Regions from separate parts of the Homo sapiens genome. Here region 1 is linked to region 2. Evidence: fine-mapped expression QTL. A gene starts in region 2. The other region holds a variant in brackets. All regions are shown on one strand. Distances are from middle to middle. Region 1 holds the start of NCKAP1L (NCK associated protein 1 like). Region 2 holds the start of PDE1B (phosphodiesterase 1B).

What was found. PIP is the estimated chance that this variant, and not a neighbour inherited with it, causes the effect.
Region 1: its variant is fine-mapped to the expression of PDE1B in whole blood (TOPMed, PIP above 0.99).

Annotation. Positions count from the first base shown.
Region 1 is chr12:54,489,408-54,500,049 of GRCh38, forward strand. It overlaps NCKAP1L (NCK associated protein 1 like), which reads left to right and starts at 8,345. Exons shown (of 31, transcript NM_005337.5): 1 at 8,345-8,484; 2 at 9,948-10,058. The coding sequence starts at 8,383. RefSeq lists enhancers at 8,307-8,366, 8,477-8,536. The variant T/G (reference allele first, on the strand shown) is at 5,829.
Region 2 is chr12:54,543,146-54,553,583 of GRCh38, forward strand. PDE1B (phosphodiesterase 1B) reads left to right here and starts at 6,456. Exons shown (of 16, transcript NM_000924.4): 1 at 6,456-6,627; 2 at 6,715-6,840. The coding sequence starts at 6,728. NCKAP1L (NCK associated protein 1 like) reads left to right here. Exons shown (of 31, transcript NM_005337.5): 31 at 1-5,098. RefSeq lists enhancers at 3,314-3,858, 7,006-7,634 and a silencer at 6,381-6,440.

The DNA of each region.
Region 1 (10,642 bases), 54 kb before region 2:
ATACCATGTTCCAACATTAAGAACTGCCAGGTGCTACATATGGTCAGAAGCTTGTTTATTTTCATTTTTATTTATTTATTTATTTATTTATTTATTTATTTATTTATTTATTTATTTATTTGAGATGGAGTCTCGCTCTGTCACCCAGGCTGGAGAGCAGTGGCGCAATCTCGGCTCACTGCAAGCTCTGCCTCCCGGGTTCACGCCATTCTCCTGCCTCAGCCTCCCCAGCAGCTGGGACTACAGGCGTCCGCCACCACGCCCGGGTAATTTTTTGTATTTTTTTTTTTTTTAGTAGAGACAAGGTTTCACCATGTTAGCCAGGATGGTCTCGATCTCCTGACCTCGTGATCCGCCCACCTCGGCCTCCCAAAGTGCTGGAATTACAGGCATGAGCCACAGCACCTGGCCTATTTTTATTTTTTATTTTTAGAGATGAGGTCTTGCCATGTTGTCCAGGCTGGTCTTAAACTCCTGGTCTCAAGCAATCCTCCCACCTTGGCCTTCCAAGGTGCTTGGATTACAGTGTGACCCACTGCACACAGCCTAATTTTTTTTTTTAAAAACGTTAACTTTTTATTTCTGAGGTTATTTTCTCCCTCTAGTGGCTTACAGTTCTTATCAGGAAAACTTACTCTTCTGCATGACAGGTGGTACTGTAATCTGCTGGCTGGCCTCCTGTGGTTTGGGTCATAAGGACACATTTCTAAGGCTTCTGGCTCCATGAGGACTAAATGGTAGGAACCACAGGTTGTCAAATAAAAAGAATGACATTTAAGATCAGGTAGTCTTGGCATAGACCTATTTTATATTGTCAAAACAAAAGTAATATGAAAGATAGGAGTATCTCAAGTCTTACCTATGAAAGTTTCGAGTAACCAAAGCAATAGCCTAGCCAGTTAGACAGTAGGGGAAATTCACTGCTTCCATGCAAAAAATTAACGTTTGTATATATTTTTAGTCTTATAAGTTGTGTTAGATAGAGTGCTTGTCTCTCAAATAAAGTATTAAACAGGCAAAGGTCCTTGGAAAACTCAGTCTGGAGTAAGATGAATTTTTTTTTTTAAGACAGTTTCACTCTTGTTGGCCAGGCTGGAGTGCAATGGCGTGATCTCGGCTCACCACAACCTCTGCCTCCCGGGTTGAAGCTATTCTCCTACCTCAGCCTCCCGAGTAGCTGGGATTACAGGCATGTGCCAAGCCTGGCTAATTTTAAATTTTTATTAGAGACGGAGTTTCTCCATATTAGTCACGCTGGTCTTGAACTCCCGACCTCAGGTGATCTGCCTGCCTTGGCCTCCCAAAGTGTTGGGATTACAGGCATGAGCCACAGCGCCCAGCCAGTGAAATTTCATACTGTAAGCTTGAGTGCTGGAGAAAGAAAGGCTGGGACAGCTGGTTCCTTTACTATTCAGCATTGGTCCCTCCATCCCTTTTCCAACTTACCTAAATTAAGCTCTTTGCCAGGGAAAGATGCTAATTGTCAGATAGGTCAGCATAGCCACTGTTGGAGAAAAGGAATCTGAAGTATGAACAGTACAATGCTTAAGTTCAGGCTACTTTATAATTATAATAATTATTTTTTAGAGATGGGGCCTTGATGTTGCCGAGGCTGGAGTGCAGTGGCTCTTCACAGGTGTGATCATAGCACATGACAGCCTCAAACTTCTGGGCTCAAGCAATCCTTCTACCTCAGCCTCCTGAGTGGCTGGGACTACAGGTACATGCCAACATGCCAATCTTGGGCTACTTTATAGTTACCTGAGAATGTCAGTCTCAAATTTCTAAAGTTGTAGGTATTAACATATGAAGACTCCTAGAAGTGATTCAAGAATATACCATCTCAGATCTGCTACATTTTACTGCCAATATAAGGCCTACTTTCTTCCATGGCTAGCTGTCTTTAGCTATCCTAGCAGACGTTCATATTAAGGACTCTCAAGTTTCCAGGCAACAGCTACACCGAGATTTCTGCAAAGCATGGACAGTATAGTTTGATGGAGGAAAAATAAGATCAAGGCAGACTGGAATAAGCAGTAGGGATAGAAAAGTGCCTTAGAATAGTCCATTTCAATTCTGCTTTGCATCATGCCTAGGGCATAGATAAAGGGCACAGAGCTAGACTATTAAATGTCAGATTTTCCTGAGGGCATTTTGGTGACTAAATCCAGGGATTTAGACTCAGGTACCTTTCAGGAATACAAGTCAGGGTAGTTGTTTAAAGCTTTCACTGCATATTAATGATTATATTAGAGCCATGAACCCTTATTATAAAGTGAATTGGCTCTCTGGAAAATAAAGGCTGCAGCATAATTCAATGTTGTATACTGTTATCTTTAGATTTTTAAAGATAATGGAAAAAGATCTTCAATAACCCAAATGTAGTCTTCAGACAACCCCAAACCCTCATTTTGGCCAGCAGCCTAGAAAAGTATGAAGTTTGACCAGACTGATAAGCCTGGTCTTAATAAATGAAGACTGCTTTAGAATAGGTGGCGAGAATTGGTGACGCTGGGTTATTCACCTGATTATGGATAGCTGAATGGAGGCTAAGACCATTTCCTTTGATATATGTTAGACATGGCCAAAGCATTCCCAACCTTGATGCCACCTTGACACTTAAACCTAGCCTAAAGGATCTTGAGACCTACCTTATTCTTGAAGGAGTGTCTGTCAAGAATCTGAAGGCAAGTGTGACTTGAAGGCGAAGACGATCCTTTGGTAAGACAAAAATAAGACAAATAGCTGAAGTTTGAGGAGAGGGAAAGCACAGTACCTTTTAGTCTGGTGATGTGAATCAACTTTCCATTCAAGCTACTCAATTCCTCTTTTCCCACCATATGTTCTATGATTTCTCAGAGGTTCGGAAATTTTTGATGTCATAGTTAAGTCTTAGAGAACTGGCTCTCAATCCTGATTGTTCATGAGAATCACTGAGTAGTTTTAAAGTGACAGGTCCTTTGGTCCCACTCCAAAACTACTGGATCAGAATCTTCAAGAATGGGCTCTGGCTAATTGTGGCTTTAAAAGAGTTCCACAGGTCTGGCACAGTGGCTCACACCTATAATTCTAGCACTTTGGGAGGCTGAGGCAGACAGATTGCTTGAGGCCAGAATTTTAAGACCAGCCTGGGTAACATAGTAAGACCCCCATCTCTATAAAAAAATTTAAAAAATTATCCTGGTGTGGTGGCGTGTGCCTGTAGTCCAAGCTACATGGGAGGCTGAGGCAGGAGGATCACTTGAGCCCAGGAGTTCAAAGCTGCAGTGAGCTATCATGACACACAGTTGTACTCCATCCTGAGCATCAGAGCAAGACCCTGTCTCTATTAAAAAAAAAAAAAAAGAAAGACTTCTACAGGGGATTCTAGGTCTACCAGGCCATACTTTGGGAGTAATTAAATACCTTTAGAAGGGTTCCTCCAGTTTATGGGAGAAACTGCTGAATGATCTTTCCAATAAGTTTCTCTAAAAACTACCAGTTGGCATAGTTAGTTACATTAATTTTTTTGAGATGGAGTTTTGCTCTTGTTGCCCAAGCTGGGGTGCAATGGCATGATTTCGGCTCACTGCAACCTCTGCCTCCCGGGTTCAAGCGATTCTCCTGCCTCAGCCTCCCGAGTAGCTGGGATTACAGGCGTGCACCACCAAGCCTGGCTATTTTTTTGTATTTTTAGTAGAAATGGGGTTTCTCCATGTTAGCCAGCTGGTCTTGAACTCCTGACCTCAGGTAATCCGCCCACCTTGGCCTCCCAAAGTGCTGGGATTATAGGCGTGAGCCACCGTGCCTGGCAAAATTTTTTTTTTTTTTTGAGACGGAGTCTTGCCCTTGTCACCCAGCCTGGAGTGGCAATGGCTTGATCTCGGCTCACTGCAACCTCCATCTCCTGGGTTCAAGTGATTCTCCTGCCTCAGCCTCCTGAGTAGCTGGGATTACAGGTGCCCGACACCACGCCCGGCTAATTTTGTATTTTTAGTAGAGATGGGGTTTCTCCATTTTGGCCAGGCTGGTCTCAAACTCCTGACCTCAGGTGATCTGCCTGCCTTGGCCTCCCAAAGTGCTGGGATTACAGGTGTGAGCCACCACACTCAGCCCAGAAAATTTTTTTTGAGACAGGGTTTTGCTTTGTCTCTCAGGCTGGAGTGCAATGGTGCAATCACAGCTCACTGTAGCCTCAACCTTCTGGGCTCAAACAATCCTCCTGCCACAGCCTCCTGAATAGCTGGGACTACAGGTGTGTGCCACCACTCCCGGCTAATTTTTGTATTTTTTGTAGGGATGGAGATTCACCATGTTTCCCAGGTTGGTCTTGAACTCCTGGGCTCAAGCCATCTGCCTGCCTCAGCCTCCCAAAGTGCTGGGGTTATAGATGTGAGCCACTGCGTCTGGCCTAGTTCCATTTTTAAACCTAGAGTTTTTCTTTATGAGTGTCAAATAGAATCCACAGAAAGTGACATAACAAGCTCACTACACACTCAAAGATCAAAATTTTACTTTACTGTTGACATTCCTAATCCAATGTAGCAGGTCTTGAACCAAATGTTTACATATGCCATATTATTTCATCAGTTCCACAGTCGTATGAGGGATTACCACCATTTTATAGATTAGGAAACAACTCAATGGTGATAGATAGCTAAAGTTACAAAGCTAGTAAGTGTTTAGCATTATTAATATTAATTGAGGTAATACATGTAAGCTTGAGTGCTTATAGTACTTCAAATGCTTTACATGTACAGAGTAAGTAACTAGGCTATAACTTTTAAAATATGCACAATAGCTCCGTGAAATAGGAAGTATTATCAATATCATCTTTATTTTACAGACAGGATAAATAGGATGTGAACTCAAGATATCTGGTTCCAGAACCTGGGCTCTCGGTCACTAAATCATAAGGCTCAGCCCACTGTACTCAACTACACTTGAGCCAAATTCTGTCTGATAACAGCAGGTAGGCTTTTCGCATATACCAAGTACAGGGGAATAAGTGTTTCCAGGTTTCAACAATCTTTTGGTTCAGCTGGCTAGGCAGTATTATATGAAATGGGCAGTTAAGGACAGAACCTGATTTAGATGTAAAGTATGTGGTATAGACCAAGTGTTGTGGGAGTTCGGCAAAACCTAGACTTGGGACTATTGAGCTAGATCCTGAAGATTGACTAGGATTTGGGTAAGCAAGAAGGAAAGCATGCGTAAGTGAAGTCAGAGAGGCAGACATGAACATAGCACATTCACAGCAGGCTGAGAAGATGGTCCCCACCAAGTTGGGGAGTATCCATTAAGGAGCAGGAAACAAGATTAGCTTGGGATGCAGAGTCTTCAACCACACTTTCAGGATAAAGACAAGAAATTCAAGTGAGGTGGCTCACAAAAAATACAAAAATTAGCCAGACGTGGTGGCCTGCACCTGAAGTCCCAGCTACTCAGGAGGCTGAAGTGAGAGGATCTCTTGAGCCTGGGAGGTCAAGGTTGCAGTGAGCCATGATAGCACTACTGCACTCAAGCCTGGGCAACAGAGCGAGAGCTTGTCTCAGGAAAAAAAAAAAAAAAAAAAAAAGGAATGCAAGAAAGAGCCGCTAGAATTACACTAACCCCACGAAGACCGGTGCTATGCTGCTGCTAAGCTTCCTGGATGTTGGCCTCTTACTGTCTGCTCCATATTCTCCTTGGTAAAGGTAAAAGACCAGTAGAAATCCTACAAATTGCTTTAGTAAAACCTGGGTTTCTTTGATAACAGCAGGTAATTCAAATCTTCATGACCAATATCACATTACCTCGAGCCCATAGCTTTCTAGGGACCCAGTCTAGTAAATAAAATGGAAGGCAGA[T/G]TCTATATTCCTAAAATGCAAATTCTACCTTAGAGATATTTGAAATTTCATGCGTTAAGTGTTGCCATCTTGCTGCTTCTTTTAAAAATACATTCTCTTTGGAGCATGGATGTTAAGTTTCTTTTTAAAATTAAAAAACATTTAGATTCAGGGGATACACATGCAGGTTTGTTACATGGGTATATTGTGTGATGCTGAGATTTGGGCTTCTAATGAACCCATCACCCATGCCCAAATAGTGAACACAGTACTCAAGTTTTTTTTTCTTTCTTGCCTTTATTTATTTATTTATTTATTTATTTATTTATTTAGAGACATAGTCTTGCTCTATCGACCAGGCTGGAGTGCGGTGTTGAACTCCTGGGCTCAAGCGACCATCCCACCTCAGCCTCCTGAGGAGCTGGGCCTACAGCCATGTACCACCACACCAGGCTAATTTATTTTATTTTATCTGTAGAGGGGTGGGGGAAGGTCTCACAATGTTGCCTAGGCTGGTCTTGAACTCCTGGCTTCAAGCAATCCTTCTACCTTTGCCTCCCAAAGTGCTGGGATTATAAGCATGAGCCACTTCACCTGGCCCCAACTTCTTAAGTAATAATGCTGATCAGCCTTGTCTCTCTTCTCCCACTCCCTAGAATTTATTGGGACAATGGGAACTCTGGATACGGAAAATGGGAATGATTAAAAACCTGAGAAAAGGAATTGGCAAGGTGGTGGAAATGAAGAGAACTCTTTTTGATTTATAATTTTTCCTAGGACCTTTTGCTTTGTGTCTTGAAAGAAAGTTGAAATAGAGTTGAAAATTTTCTTGAGTTACGGAGTTAAGGCCTCATTGGAATGGCAAGAATATTTTAATGCTAAAATTCATTCAAGTCTCTAAGATTTAAGGGTGATTACTAATTTCCTCTTTTTAATCTTGATTAATTTGGTTCTTCTTCATGGGGCCTATTTCCTAATTTAGTCTTAATAATTCAACAAATAAACCAGCATATTTATTGAGTGACTACTGTGTCCAAGAGGTATTGTTCTAGATCAGTGTTTTTCAGAATGGAATATTTGTACCAAAACCTCCTACAACAGTGCTTATATAAGTACAGACTTCTAGGCCCCACAACAGACTCGCCTACCTACCAATGCTAATCTCAGAGGACAGGGATTGATCTGTTTCTCAAGCATCCATAAATACCATGGTACTAGAGCACTGGTTCTCAAACTTGAGTGTGCATTGGAATCACCTGGAGGGTTTGTTAAAACACAGAGTGCCTGGACCCACCCCAGAATTTTGGATTCAGTGGTCTGGGGCGGGTCCTAAGAATTTGCATCTCTAACAAGTTTCCAGGTGATGCTGATGCTGCTGGATCACATTTTGAGAATTACTATGTACTTCTTGAGAACTACTTTGAGAATTATTATGTACTGTAGAAGTACAATGCACTGTAGTAGAGCATTGTGAGAAATATAAAAAAGTATTAGAGGCCGGGTGTGGTGGCTCATGCCTGTAATTCCAGTACTTTGGGAGGCTGTGGCGGGTAAATCACCTGAGGTCAGGAGTTCGAGAGCAGCCTGGCCAACACGGTGAAACCCCATGTCTACTAAAAATACAAAAATTAGCAAGGCGTGGTGGTGGGCACCTGTAACCACAGCTACTCCAGAGGCTGAGGCTGGAGAATTGCTTGAGCCCAGGAGGTGGAGGTTGTAGTGAGCAGAGATCATGCCATTGCACTCCAGCCTGGGCAACAAGAGTGGAACTCTGTTTCAAAAAAAAAAAAAAAAAGAAAAAAAAGTATTAGGTACAATTCCTGTCATTAAGGAGCTTATGCTGTAGTTGGGGGAGATACAACGTACACTATAAACATATAACAAGGAATATATGTATTTGACAATATAAAATATAATACAATATAATATTTGACATTGATGGGGTCTTTAGGAGAAGATGGGATTTGATCTGGGTACTAAAACATGATGAGGCCAAAGGTTCATAGGCATTCTTGGATATAAAAGAAGGAAAATATAGAGGTGTACAGGGGTGGGGTGGTAGATACTTGTTTATCTAGCTTACAGCTTTTAATTTTTATTTTTTATAGAGATGGGGTCTTGCTATGTTGCCCAGGCTGGTCTGGAACTCCTGAGCTCAATGGATCTTCCCACCTTTTCCTCCCAAAGTGCTGGGATTACAGGTGTGAGCCACCACGCCCAGCTTTGTCTAGGACACTTATGGGGGCATAAGACCAAAAAGGTTGGTGCAGTCTGTGAAGAGCCTTGAAAGCCTGTCCTTCTCCTCAGCTCCACCCACTTCATAGCCTTACCAAAAGTGCTGCACAGCCAGAAAGAGGAAGTCTCCCCTGCTGAGTGTGCAAGAGGAAGCACAAGAAGGCTCTGAGGGCCTGTGAGCCATAATGACTGATTTCACCCATGAGCCAATTGCAGAGGCAACAGAAGACCAGTGCACCAACCAGGCTGGGTCCCTCCGCCAGAGGGTGTCACCATCTAAGCTGAAAGTGTTTGGGGAGATCAGACATTGCTGTCTGGTGCTCCTCTCTCAGTGGCCATCATGTCTTTGACATCTGCTTACCAGCATAAATTAGCAGAGAAGCTCACTATCCTGAATGATCGCGGTCAGGGGGTTCTCATCCGTATGTATAACATCAAGAAGGTAAGCATGAACAATGGGACTAGTACTGATTATTCCAACAATAATAGGGCAGGGAACCCTGAGGCGGCAGGTGCAGCAGTTAGACTCCCACCTTTTTTTCCACTGCTTTTCCACTGACTATAATCTACATAATCACTCAGATTATACAGGCCAGCCAGTTCAGGAAGGCAGAAGTGGAGGCTTCTTTTCAAGGCTTCCCCTTTCTAGATATGATTCTTGCCCCAACGATGGCATCTGCTTTCCTCTGGGGATGGGGGTGAGGGTGGGGATGGGGAAACAACAGTGGTATTCCAAGTGACTTGGATAAAGGTCTGGGGTCCAACCTTCTGGGTTTTATTATTTATTGTTGATCCTCTACACTCTGAAGAGATCTGAAGCTGGGTCTCTGGCAAAAACTTTTCTGTGGAAGTGCTTCCCTAAAAGGAAAAAAAATAGATAATTAGGTATTTAGATTAAAAAGGGTAGGTGTCTTCTGAGCTGCTCCTGGGGTAGTTCATGCTGTGGTGGTTGTGTGTGTGTGTGTGTGTGTGTGTGTGTGTGTGTTTAGAATAGGAACTGAGGAATTGAAAGAAGCTAGTGACAAGAGGTGGGCTAGGGGCTGGGCAAACCATAGGAAGTAAAGAGATAAAGACAGGGGTGTTTATGGGGAGTTCCTGGCATAGAAAATAGGGGACTTTGGGGGAGGGAGCTTTTGTGTTTTTTGTAATAAAACAAATCACCAGGAACACGGTTTCTCTGTCACCATGAATCCTGTAAATGCCCTTTGGGATAAGATACTTACATAGTGAACAAAATTGTGACACTGAATCTTGTACAAAGTCTAACTCCTGAGCAGCTGCTTTTCTTGTTCCTTCCGGCTTCAGTTGAGGGGCGGGGAAACAGCTTCCTCTTTGTGCTGGGGCCAAGCAGGCATTAAACTCTACCCATCAAGACAAAATGCCTAGGTTGTTATTTCGCTCTTAGATACTTGGCTTAATGTCTTGGAATTTTTTCTTGACCTACTCTTATGCTTTTTATTTTTATATTTATTTATTTATTTATTTATTTATTTATTTTCGGAGTCTCGCTCTGTCGCCCAGGCTGGAGTGCAGTGGCACGATCTTGGCTCACTGCAACCTCCGCCTCCCGGGTTCAAGCGATTCTCCTGCCTCAGCCTCCCAAGTACCTGGGACTACAGTTGTGCACCACCATGCCCAGCTAATTTTTGTATTTTTAGTAGAGACGGGGTTTCACCATGTTGGCCAGGCTGGTCTCGAACTTCTGACCTTGTGATCTGCCTGCCTCGGCCTCCCGAAGTGCTGGGATTACAGGTGTGAGCCGCTGCGCCCAGCCTCTCATGCTTTTTAAATTAGTTCCCAGGTTGCCTTTTCCTAAGACAGATTATGAGAATGAATGTTGCAAGAAGAGGTATGTTTCTGAGGAGGAGGAGAAAGGGTTGAAATATATATGGTTTCTCTCTGCAGACTTGTTCAGACCCCAAATCTAAGCCACCTTTCTTACTGGAAAAGTCCATGGAACCATCTCTCAAGTATATCAACAAGAAATTTCCCAACATAGATGTCCGAAACAGCACGGTGAGAACTTGGTCCTTCTCTCCTTTCTCTGAATAATTCTCTGCTTGAATGGCTGAAATTCTCCTCTTTTGATGCCTCTCTTCAAACTTGGCAGGGGATGGAGTAGTCTTTTTTTATTAATAGTTTTCCAAGGCTCAACCACAGGGCTTCAGGTTGTTGTAGAGCTTTAAGTCTTGAGCATTTTGAGATAAGATGGGATTCTTCCAGCATAAGCTGGAGCGAATCATCACCCCTTTTCCATTGCAAGATTCATGGGAAAACATTGTTTTTGTACAAGACAGCTCTATCAACCCAGCAGGGTACATGTATTTTATTGTTTCTGTTTCCCACTCACTGTTTCCTTGCTGTTTGTCTTAGATTTCTGCATCTAATGGGATATCTCTACTTTTCCCTTATTAAATGTTAACCCTAGATTTTTCACCCATCTTTGTAGCATCTTTGAATTCTGTTTCTTTTGACTTTGATATAAATAGTATATCTGTTCATCTGAAAGGGTGCTTAAAATTTCCTCTCATTTAGCCCTCTGTATCTAGTCAGGATCACATGCAACCATTCTACCTAGATAGACAATCTCCTTTGTTTAA
Region 2 (10,438 bases):
ACCATTATCTTCTCTCTTCCTTTTTCAAATGTGTTCAGCAAACATTCAACCTGCTCCTACTGCAGAGTAGCAGCAAAGGAGCCCCTCTTTTCCTTTGTGGGGCTCTTCGAGGGGTCATTGGGTCTCTTCCTTTGCCCCCAGCTTGACTGCGTTTCCTACTGGGGCAAGGAGGAAGTGCCCTTCAGAGATGTTCACTGCCCACCTACTCTACTACATTGTTTGTTACAAGTTCTCTCTTGCTTTAACCCCTCCTGCTTTGATATCTCCACAACCCAGAGCAGAGGGTCAGTTAGTCTCCGTCAATTCTAGGTTACATGACAACTGATTGGCCCAGACTTAGGTGGGTTTTCCCTCCTGTACCATTTGGGGGTACTCTGCCTTTTATTGGGAGGGACTAATTTAACCCCAAATCCTTTTGTCAGCCTGGGTATAGCTGTTGCTCCAGGAAGGGATTTCTCTTCTGGATCTTAAATTTCACAGACCTCATTAGGTTGTATGGCCCTGAGAGTGGGTATCCTTGAGGGAGTACAAGCTGTTTCAACTTAGCCCTTTTCTGCGCTAATTAGAATTTCAAGCGTCACAGAGCCTGGGGGCTTTCAAGATAGCACTAAACTAGGTTTACTTAACTCCTTGGCAGGAAATAGTGGCCCCCATGCATCACTTCTGTGAATCCACTGCCAGGGAGAAGTGGAGAAACAGATCATATATGTCACAGGTCTAGAGTGGTTGGAATTGACAAATATAATTAGCTAGTTGGTTAATTAGGGTCATGTCCATACTTTCATGATGAAAGGGAAGCAGTTGTCGGTTTTCAGCAAAAACGATTCAGCCTTCCTGAAGCCTATTTGATAGCTGTTTTGGGGTTTTGTACATGTGTTTGCTTTTTATTTCTTGAGACCCAGGCTTAGTCAATACTTTCTTAACTTGGCACCCATAATCAACATACAGATTTTTCTTAGCAACAGTTGTCTGCTCTTTAGGGTGGAAGCGATAGAGAATCCTGCTTCGTGCATCAGCAAATCCTCCTTCCTTGCTATGGGAAGGGCTTATGTTCTAAAGGGTGATTCAGTGTCAGGCTTATGAGACTGAGAGTAAAGTTGATGAGGAAGAGGAGGCTCAGAAGTATCTGAACAACTACTCTATATGTTTATATTTTTCTGCTTGAGGGGATAGAGATCCCTCCTCCATCTGCATCTGCATATAGAACTGCTTAAGAGGACAGCAAGACAAGTTGCTGCAGGGGGATGGAGGGTAGACAGAATGCCTTTTTTTAAAACTGAAAATTTTATTGAGATACTTAATCCACCTGCACTTGTAAGAAATCATACAGAGAAATTCTATTTTCCTTTACACAGTTTCCCTGAATGCTAACATCTAGCAAAACTGTAGTACACTGCCACAACCAGGATAACTGACATTGATATAATCTACTGATCTTGTTCAGATTTCCTTCCCCAGTTTTGCTTATGTTCATTTCTCTCTGTGTGTGCACGTGTGTGTGTTATCTATTTCTATACAGCTTTATCATGTGTAGGTTTGTGTATCTGCCACTGCAGTCAACATACAGAACAGGCCGGGCGCAGTGGCTCACGCCTGTAATCCCAGCACTTTGGGAGGCCAAGGCAGGTGGATCACCTGAGGTCAGGGGTTTGAGAGCAGCCTGGCCAATATAGTGAAACACCGTCTCTACTAAAAATACCAAAACTAGCCGGGCGTGGTGGTGCATGCCTGTAGTCCCACTACTCAGGAGGCTGAGGCAGCAGAATAACTTGATCCCGGGAGGCGGAGGTTGCAGTAAGCTAAGATCCTGCCACAGCATTCCAGGCTGAGTGACAGAGCGAGACTCTGTCTCAAAAAATAAATAATAATTTAAAAAAAGATACAGAACAGTTCCATCACCACAAGGATCCCTCGCATTGCTCTTTTATAGCAATTTTATAGCAATTTTCTCCTCCCACAACCCCCTTCCCCATCTCTAGCTCCTGGTAACACAGATATATTCTCTATTTCTAAAATTTTGTCATTTGATATATCTTTTTGTAAACATATAATTATACACACATATTTCTCTACCACTTATACTTTTTCAAAGTGCTTTCACATCCTTATAGCAATTCTGCAAGGTAGCCAGGGAAGGCTTTCCTATTTCAGGTCAGAAAACAGATTTAGAAATATTAAATGACTTAATGAAGGTCACATGTTTAGCAGTAGAACTAGAACTGGGACCCAAGTCTGATGTTCAGTCCTAGACCTTTTCTACTTGCCCGGTCTGCCTCTTCACAAGGGAAGACTTGGGTTTTAGAATCCAGAGACCTTAGAAGGAGCAAATTGGAGAAGGTGAGGACATGATGGCCTTTACTACCGGAAGCAAAAAGTGAATGTCCAGAGGTGAAGGGACAGAGAAGTAACAGGACCCATCAGCATTTCAGGCAATTTGCTTCCTTTACCAGGAGGGTCTCTGTCCTCTTACAACCTGGGAAAAAATAAGTTGTGTCCCAGGTTGTAAGTTTGCTTTACTTAGGCCCAAAGGAACTAAAGAATGGATATCAGAAATCTCACCCCAATTGTTTTGTCTTACAGGCACAGAATAGGTTCTAGCCTCAGCATTTTCATTAATGTAGTGTTTTTATTAACATCTCCATTAACTTGCTTGCAGCAATGAGATGGAATTATGCCTCCCACAAGGCCTGGGGCAAGATACTTGCATAGGTGCCCCCTTTTGTTTGGACAGTAGAAACACTGCCTCCCCTGCCATGGTGTTCAATCCAGTTGGCAGGTGGGCCAGCTTCAAAGTGCAGAAGGAACTGGGTGTGGTGGCTCACCCCTGTAATCCCAGCACTTTGGGAGGCAGGCGGATCGCTTGAACTCAGGAGTTTGAGACCACTCTGGGCAACACAGTGAAACCCTGTCTCTCCAAAAATACAAAAAATTAGCTGGGCATGGTGGCTGTTGTCTGTAATCCCAACACTTTGGGAGGCTGAGGCCAGTGGATCTCTTGAGCTAAGGAGGTTAAGACCAGCCTGGTCAACATGGCGAACTCCGTCTCTACAAAAAAATACGAAAATTAGCTGGGCGTAGTAGTTCCTGCCTGTAGTCCTAGCTACTTGGAAGGCTGAGGTGGGGAGGATCGCTTGAGTCCGGGAGGCAGAGGTTGCAGTGAGCGAAGATGATGCCATTGCACTCCAGTCTGGGTGACAGAGCAAGATCCTGTCTCACAAAAAAAAAAAAAAAAAAAAATGCAGAAGGTCCAGGGCCTGGCCAAGGGGATGATGCCCTGTAGCACTTTGCTTTGCAGGAAGGGAACAACTGTGCTGTGAATACCAGGATCCAGGAGGGAGGGAGGGTATATCTGTGTCCCCCAGCTAGGGACAAGGCTTCCTTAACCTTAGGTCCTCATGCTTATATTAGTTCTTCTCCAACAAAGTTTGACTTTGAGAAGAAGCTGGCACATGGCTGAAATGCACTCACGCGGTTGGGGGAAGAGTGTTCTTCCAGTCCTCCTCCCCACAGGGCCTCCTGCTTCTCCTAAGTACCTGTCATCAAAGGAGATGAAGATGAATCCCCCTTCAGCCCCCACACCTCAATGAGTTGTCAAGTACTCTCCCTCCCACTTGAATAGGAAGCAGGAGCAGCAGGCCAGGTTGCAGGTTGAGGAAGTCAGAAGTTAACTTGAGCTGAGTTTGCAGCTCTGGAGAGATTGAGGAGCAGACTTTTCTCTTGTCACTTTGGAAGGAGAGGATTGTGAGGCTGCCCCTTTAAATAGCATTCCCGTAGGAGGCAGATCACATCCATCCGTCACCTACTGCCAAAGCATCATTTTTGGTTTCTATCAAACTCAAAGCTTGTTGGAAAGGATTGTGGGGTTAGGGGAGTGAGGAGGCAGAGCCTCCTAGGGGTAGGGGGCAGTTTAGAAGCTGAAAAGGAGAGGAATGAGAAGGAGCCTGGGAAAGGTGGGGGATGAGGACAAGAGGAAAAGACAGGGAGAGAATAGTTGTCTTTTGAGCCTCAGAGTGGAACAAGTATACCCAATTCTTATCTGTTTAGAGACGCAGCAAGGTAGAAATGGGATTGTATTGCAACAAGAGGAATGAGGTTGAGACTAAACACCAGGACTGGTGACTAAAGAAAGTGAAAGGAGCCACAGAGTGAAAAAGGCTGATAGACTTGGCTCTGGTTTTATCACTTACTCTCTGTGAGACCCTATAATTTTTCTGGGTTAGTTTAGTTCTCATTTATTTTTATTTTTACTTTTTCCATCAAACTGTGTTGTCTATGAAGTTTTCCCATTTATTAAATGAAGGGAATTAGAGTGGATGAACTCTAATGTCTCTTTCACGAATAACTTTGTGTGTGTGTGCGTGTGTGTGTGTGTGTGTGTGTGTGTGTGTGAATTAGCCTTAAAATGAATCAGGAGCAGGGGGTCTTGGGAGAGCAGGATGTGACACTGTGTTAACAAGAAATGTTGAGAGAGCCCTCTGGATGTATGTCTTGCCTCTTTCCCACCTATTCTAGTTTAAAGACCTGCCTAAATTTGGAAACTCCTTAGCTCTAATCCTAATTTACTAATTAGAGCTCTTTAGCACCATCCTAATTTGCAATTCTTTTGTAGTTTCCAGCCCATTTCATTTTCAGTTGATAAGGAGGAGATTGCTCCCAAATTTTCAGAAATGGACTGTGTAGGAGTGTGACTAGGGTCTCAGATGCAGCCATTTCTTGGCTGGGTCTGGGGAAAAGCCAAGGGATGTGTGCTAAAGGTAGATGGACAGAGGGTGGGAAGTCCCTTATTATTTCCACTTTTTTCTCCATCTCTGACTCTGCCATCTCTTTCTGCCTCTGTACTTTCTGGGAGCTGGTTCTGCTGATACTTCTGCTGAATCTAAATGCTGACCTAACTTGGCAATTCTTTTATGTTAGGAGTCTTAGCTGTGACAGTTCATCCGCTTCTTCGCCCTTCCATTTCACTTCTTTTCTCCTTCTCTGACTGGGAGAGGAGGAGCCTCCACTCAGTATTTAGAACAGAGTAAATACCTTCTCCTGATCACTCCTCCTTCCAACCTCCAGAATTTTTTGAAATTAAAATTCACATTCTGGGATCCTGGATTAGTGGCCTGTTTTGGATTCAGTAGTTAGTGAATATATCTCCACTTTCTGTTGACATAGGAGTTTCCCCAATGCCAAAGCAGGTGGTCATTAAGGGAGAGAACAATATGGAGCAAGAGAGGTGGTTCCTGCAAGAGTCCTAGGTAGGACTCGGTTGGATGGAGGAGGCTTTGCCCTTTTACAAGGTCTTGAGTTCAAATTCCAGTTCACTCCTTCCACAAATGTTTATTAACCAGCTAGGCTGTTTTGTGCTGGGCCTTTAGCTCCTAGATTTCTTTCTCTGAAGACAGAACAGAAAAAATGAGCTGGAAGTGCTTCAGGAGGGGTTTTGATATCAGGAATGCTTTCCTGGCTGTGTAGAGTTATTACCTAGTCAAAGAAGAAGATGTTAAGCTGGGTGCGGTGGCTCACACCTGTAATCCCACCACTTTGGGAGGCCGACGTGGGCGGATCACGAGGTCAGGAGTTGGAGACCAGCCTGGCCAATATAGTGAAACCCCATCTCTACTAAAAAATACAAAAATTAGCCGGCGTGGTGGCCCGCGCCTGTAGTCCCAGCTACTCCAGGAGGCTGAGGCAGGAGAATCGCTGGAACTGGGGAGGCAGAGGTTGCAGTGAGCCGAGATCGCGCCACTGCACTGCAGCCTGGGCGACACAGACTCCTTCTCAAAAAAAAAAAAAAAAAAAAAAAAAAAAAAAAAGATGCCTGCTCTGGAGAGCTTTGAACTTGGAAGAAATTCCTATCTGCTAGGCGGGCAGGCAGAAGTACCATGGAGAAGGCCACAGTCTTGGAGACAGGTGGGGAAGATCAAGCTGAGGGACCCGAGGCCAAGTGTGGGATGCCATCACAGCTCAGGGCACACCCTGAACTTTTCCAAGACAGGAGCACAGGTGGGGTCTGGTCCGACTGGGTTCCGAGTCCAGATCTAGCAGGGAAAGATGTGTGCTCATCCCCTACCCCGCACTCAGACATGGGACACGCAGGCAGCTAGGCACACGTGGATACATGGAACCACAACCACATACACAGAAACTCAAAACACACGGAGAGAACCCACACAACCACCCACACCGAAGTCCAGCCCGCCGCCTCCGCTGCACTCTGTAAACACGCACTCACATCCGCCAGTACAGGGCACACGCAGCCACTCGTCCCCGGCGCCTGTGTGCGTGCGCTCGCCCTTGGGCGCTTCTGTCTGTGTGTGCCCCCGGCTTCCAATCGTTCCTTTGGGAGGGGGAGGAGTGGCTGTGAGGAGTGAGAGACTGGCGGGCAGGCTGAGGAGAAGGGAGGGAGAGCAGAGGGAGGGGGGAACCCGGCCGGGGGAGGAGGAGAGAGGCGAGGAGGCGGCTCTGGCAGCGCGCGGCGGCGGCGGCGGTAGCGGCAGCAGCAGCGGCGGTGCGGAGAGCTTGGACTGGGAGCCCAAAGCTCGGCTGGGCAGCGGGAGAGGAGGAGCCGCAGGAGCTGCAGCTCTGCCAGCTTGGGCCGAGCCTAGAGACACCGGCCTGGCTGGTCCACGCCAGCCGCAGGTGGGAAGGGCCTGGGATGGGGGGTGAGGGTCTCTCGGCTGGGGCTGAAGCTGAGCCGAGGTGCTGTCTCCTCCTTCTGTTCCGTAGACCGTGGCTGAGCATGGAGCTGTCCCCCCGCAGTCCTCCGGAGATGCTGGAGGAGTCGGATTGCCCGTCACCCCTGGAGCTGAAGTCAGCCCCCAGCAAGAAGATGTGGATTAAGCTTCGGTCTCTGTAAGTCCCCGGCCCGGGAATGGGGGGAAGGGACCTTAGGGAGCCTGAGCGGGAGGAGGAGGGGGGATAACTGGAGCAGGGCTGTGGGCTGGTAGATTCTCTTTGGCACAGATGTTGGCAGGTGCGAGGAAGCACGGCCCTGACACGCGTGGCCAGGCCACATGTGCAAGGCATGTGCGGAGCAAGCTGGCCAGTTGGAGCGGGCTTAGGAGTTGCAAAGGTAACGATGTGCCTGTGCCTGTGGACCCCAGGCTGACACACGCAGCGCCTAGAGGCAGCACAGTATATGCAGTGTGGCAGGGCTGCAGGAGGGCAGTAGAGGTGCCAGGCTGACTCACACATATCCATGTGCAGAGTTGTGCAGATGTGAGCCACATGACATGTGTGTGCATGAGTGAGCGTGGGTCACAGAGGTATGTGGAGTGATTGCACACAGCTGTAGATCTACTGCATGGGAATACTTGTGCCAACCTGTGGGTCATATGTATCTCAGTTGGGATTGGTAGTTTCTGCCTCATGCACAGGAAGTGGGGTGGGGGTTACCCCATGCCTGAGCTGCTCATCTCTTGGGGCCTGGAAACTCACTCTATGTATTAATGATGAGGGGACCCACGTGGAATCTGGAGGGGGGGTTGGAGCCCCCACCTGGAAGCTGAAGGAGGTGATGATGGTGAAGAAATATTGATTGACAAAGGCAAGGTAACTGGCTTAATCAGAGGCTTTTTGTTTATATAGGGTCTTCCAGGATCTCCAAGCACATTTGGGCATCTTTTCCTATTGTTGCAGTACCAGGGCATGTGGGGAGGAATAAATGGGGGAAGGAAGAACTCAGGTATCTGATACTCCAGTCCCAGGGGAGGAAAGGAACTTTTCCCCTGCTCCTTAGAAAAAAAAGAGGATTGGGTCAAAGACAAGCCATGCACCATGTTTATCTCCCAGTCAGCTGCTGCCATTGGGAAATCTCCGCAGTCTGTTGATTCTTAATCAGGGAACAAGAGAAGATGTCCCTCTCTCCGAGATGAATCCATGGCCCCAGGAAAGAGGAAACAGATAGGAGACTATGGATGTTTAGAGAGGAAACACAGTAAACATAGCCCTGAACCCAGTTCCTCCTCAATGTTCTCCATAGTGAGCACCGAAGCTTTCTATTTCTGGGTTCTGGGAGAGGGAGAGATGGGGGTAGGGGATGGATAGATGCTTATGTTGTATTGTTCTTTAAATACTTCACCTATGGTGATAAGATGACACCTTTTTATGGCAGATGGGTCTGATTTATACACTAGCTACTTGGAGAGGCGTTAGGGAGAACTGAGGCATAGTGGGCAACAAGGCTTGGAATCCAAATGTACTTCTCAGTCCTCCTCCTTGGCTGCCTCTGGCCAATCCAATTTGCTGGGCTCTATGAAGCACAGCCTTGGAATGAGTTCTGGGATGAAGAAATGGAAAACCAGATTGAACTGATTTTTGTTGGGAGGAGCACTGTGTGATTCTTGATAGAAAATGACGCTGCGTTAATGGTAAATGAGCTGGGGAAAGGGGCAGATAAGGAAGTAGTTGAAAGGTAAAGAAGGGCCCCAGGTCCATAAATGGGAGAATTCAGGATGGCTCCCCTAACACTAGTGGCTCATCATACTTACCTTGCCTGTATTCCAGGTAACAGGGCCCTGCGAAAGAGTGGGTATTACTAGTTTCACTATCTCCCACACATTTCTAACCAAAAGCCTTTCCTGAAAATGAATTGTTGTTTCTTCCTTTAGTGTGAGAAGTGCTCAGTGGTGAGAGAAGAGGATTCCCAGAAGGAGGCATGAAACCTGGGAAGAGAAGGGAGTAGAGGCATCTGTCTCTCCAGAGTGCCTTAGCTGAGATGTCCTTACATGAGATTAGGGTGGACAAGGATCCCTATTCTTATTGATTAGATCATTCTGGTCTTCACTCACTTCAGCAGTCTGGTCCTTAAGAATGCTAGCTTTGTACAATAAATTTACAAGTAAAAAATAAAGCTAGCTACATGTAATATAACTTACCCAAAAAAGTACAATCTCCGGATTATTAATTGGCAGGAATAGATTCCCAGTCTTACGTCCTTAAAGCAGAGAAAGACCTTGAAATCAAGGTAGATCCCAACTTGATCTATGTTGATGGCCTACTGGATTTTGCCTTTTTGAATATTGGGGAGGCTTTGACTATCAGATGAAGGGAAATAAAAGGATTTAGGGCTTTGCTGGGTAAGAGGTGGGAGTTTCCCAACCCTCTCAATGGGATGGTTTCTGAATAGGTGAGAAAGGAGATGTTCCCCCTTTTAAGTGGAAATAAAGATCCCCCTGCCCCTTTGGTCAAGGTGGGAAGGGGTTGCTAAGTCTGGAAATAGGAAATAGACATGATTATCTTAGGACTGGGTACTGCTTGGAAATGGAAACATGGCATATATACTTGTATGTATTTATCTAACTATCTATCTAGATTCTTCTACTCAACACATCCTATTCCCCCCCTTCTACCCTTTTAATTTCTAATCAGGACATCCAGACTTTCTTCAGGGAGACTAGGCCTGGTGTTTTTGACTCTGGATAAAAAGCCCACACTAATATAATAGTGCAGGGCAATTTTTTGTTGGGAAGAGCATCCAAGAATTCTGTTTCCCACACTAAGACCCTGTCAAAAATAAATTCAGAATCTAATCTGTATCATATGAGCTGAAGAGAATCTCTTAACTGTGTGATTTTACCCCTATTTTCAGAACAATTTCTCTAATTAAGCAAACTCATAAACTGAGGCATGAGAGAGGGTGAAAGAGGCCATCTGGAGATGATGAGTTGGCCAGGATGATTTTCAGCATCTGTAACCCTAAGAGGAAGTATTTGACTTGGCTGTCCACCCTTCTCTGAGATCAGAGGGCTTTAGGGAATGGGAAGAAGACCAGAAGAGATAGAAATGATTTTCTGTGTCTTTTGTGATTCAAGAAAAACGATGAGCAGACATTGGTTTGCCATCCTCAGCTCATTTATTTATCCAACAACTATTTCTTGAGTGCCTTCTATGGACCAGGTGGCATGCTGGATGCTGAGAATACAGTCGGTGGTGGACAAAACAGACATAGTCCCTCTTCCTACAGAGCTTGTAACCTGCTTCAACTCCATCAAGTGGTGTAGAGAGGCAGGGGGCTCTGTATTCCCTGTTTTGCTACACCCACCCAAGTGATGAAATTCTACCACTCTGGGTTTCTGCCTCATTTTTTCTTTAGGGGGGTTATATACATAGGAAAAGCATAAATATGAGTTCTCTTTTTCCCAGGATGGTACAAACACCACTCTCTTTTCTCTGCTCCAGTTTCTCTTGGAATTTTACATTTTACAGATGGAACTTCCCCCTTCCTTTGGGACAGTATAGACATAGTCCCTTTCTCTTTTTCTTTCCCCACATGGTACGCACTCGGGACCCTCAAAGTCTAGGCTCAATGTTCTATGCTGTGGTTCAAGGTCATTATAGATGAGCTGGAGCAGGGACCCCACTGGGGATTATTTTTGCTTATCTTTGTTTCATCAGAGTCTAGTGTGATACCTTGAACATAACAGGCACTCAATAAATGCTGTTAAATAAA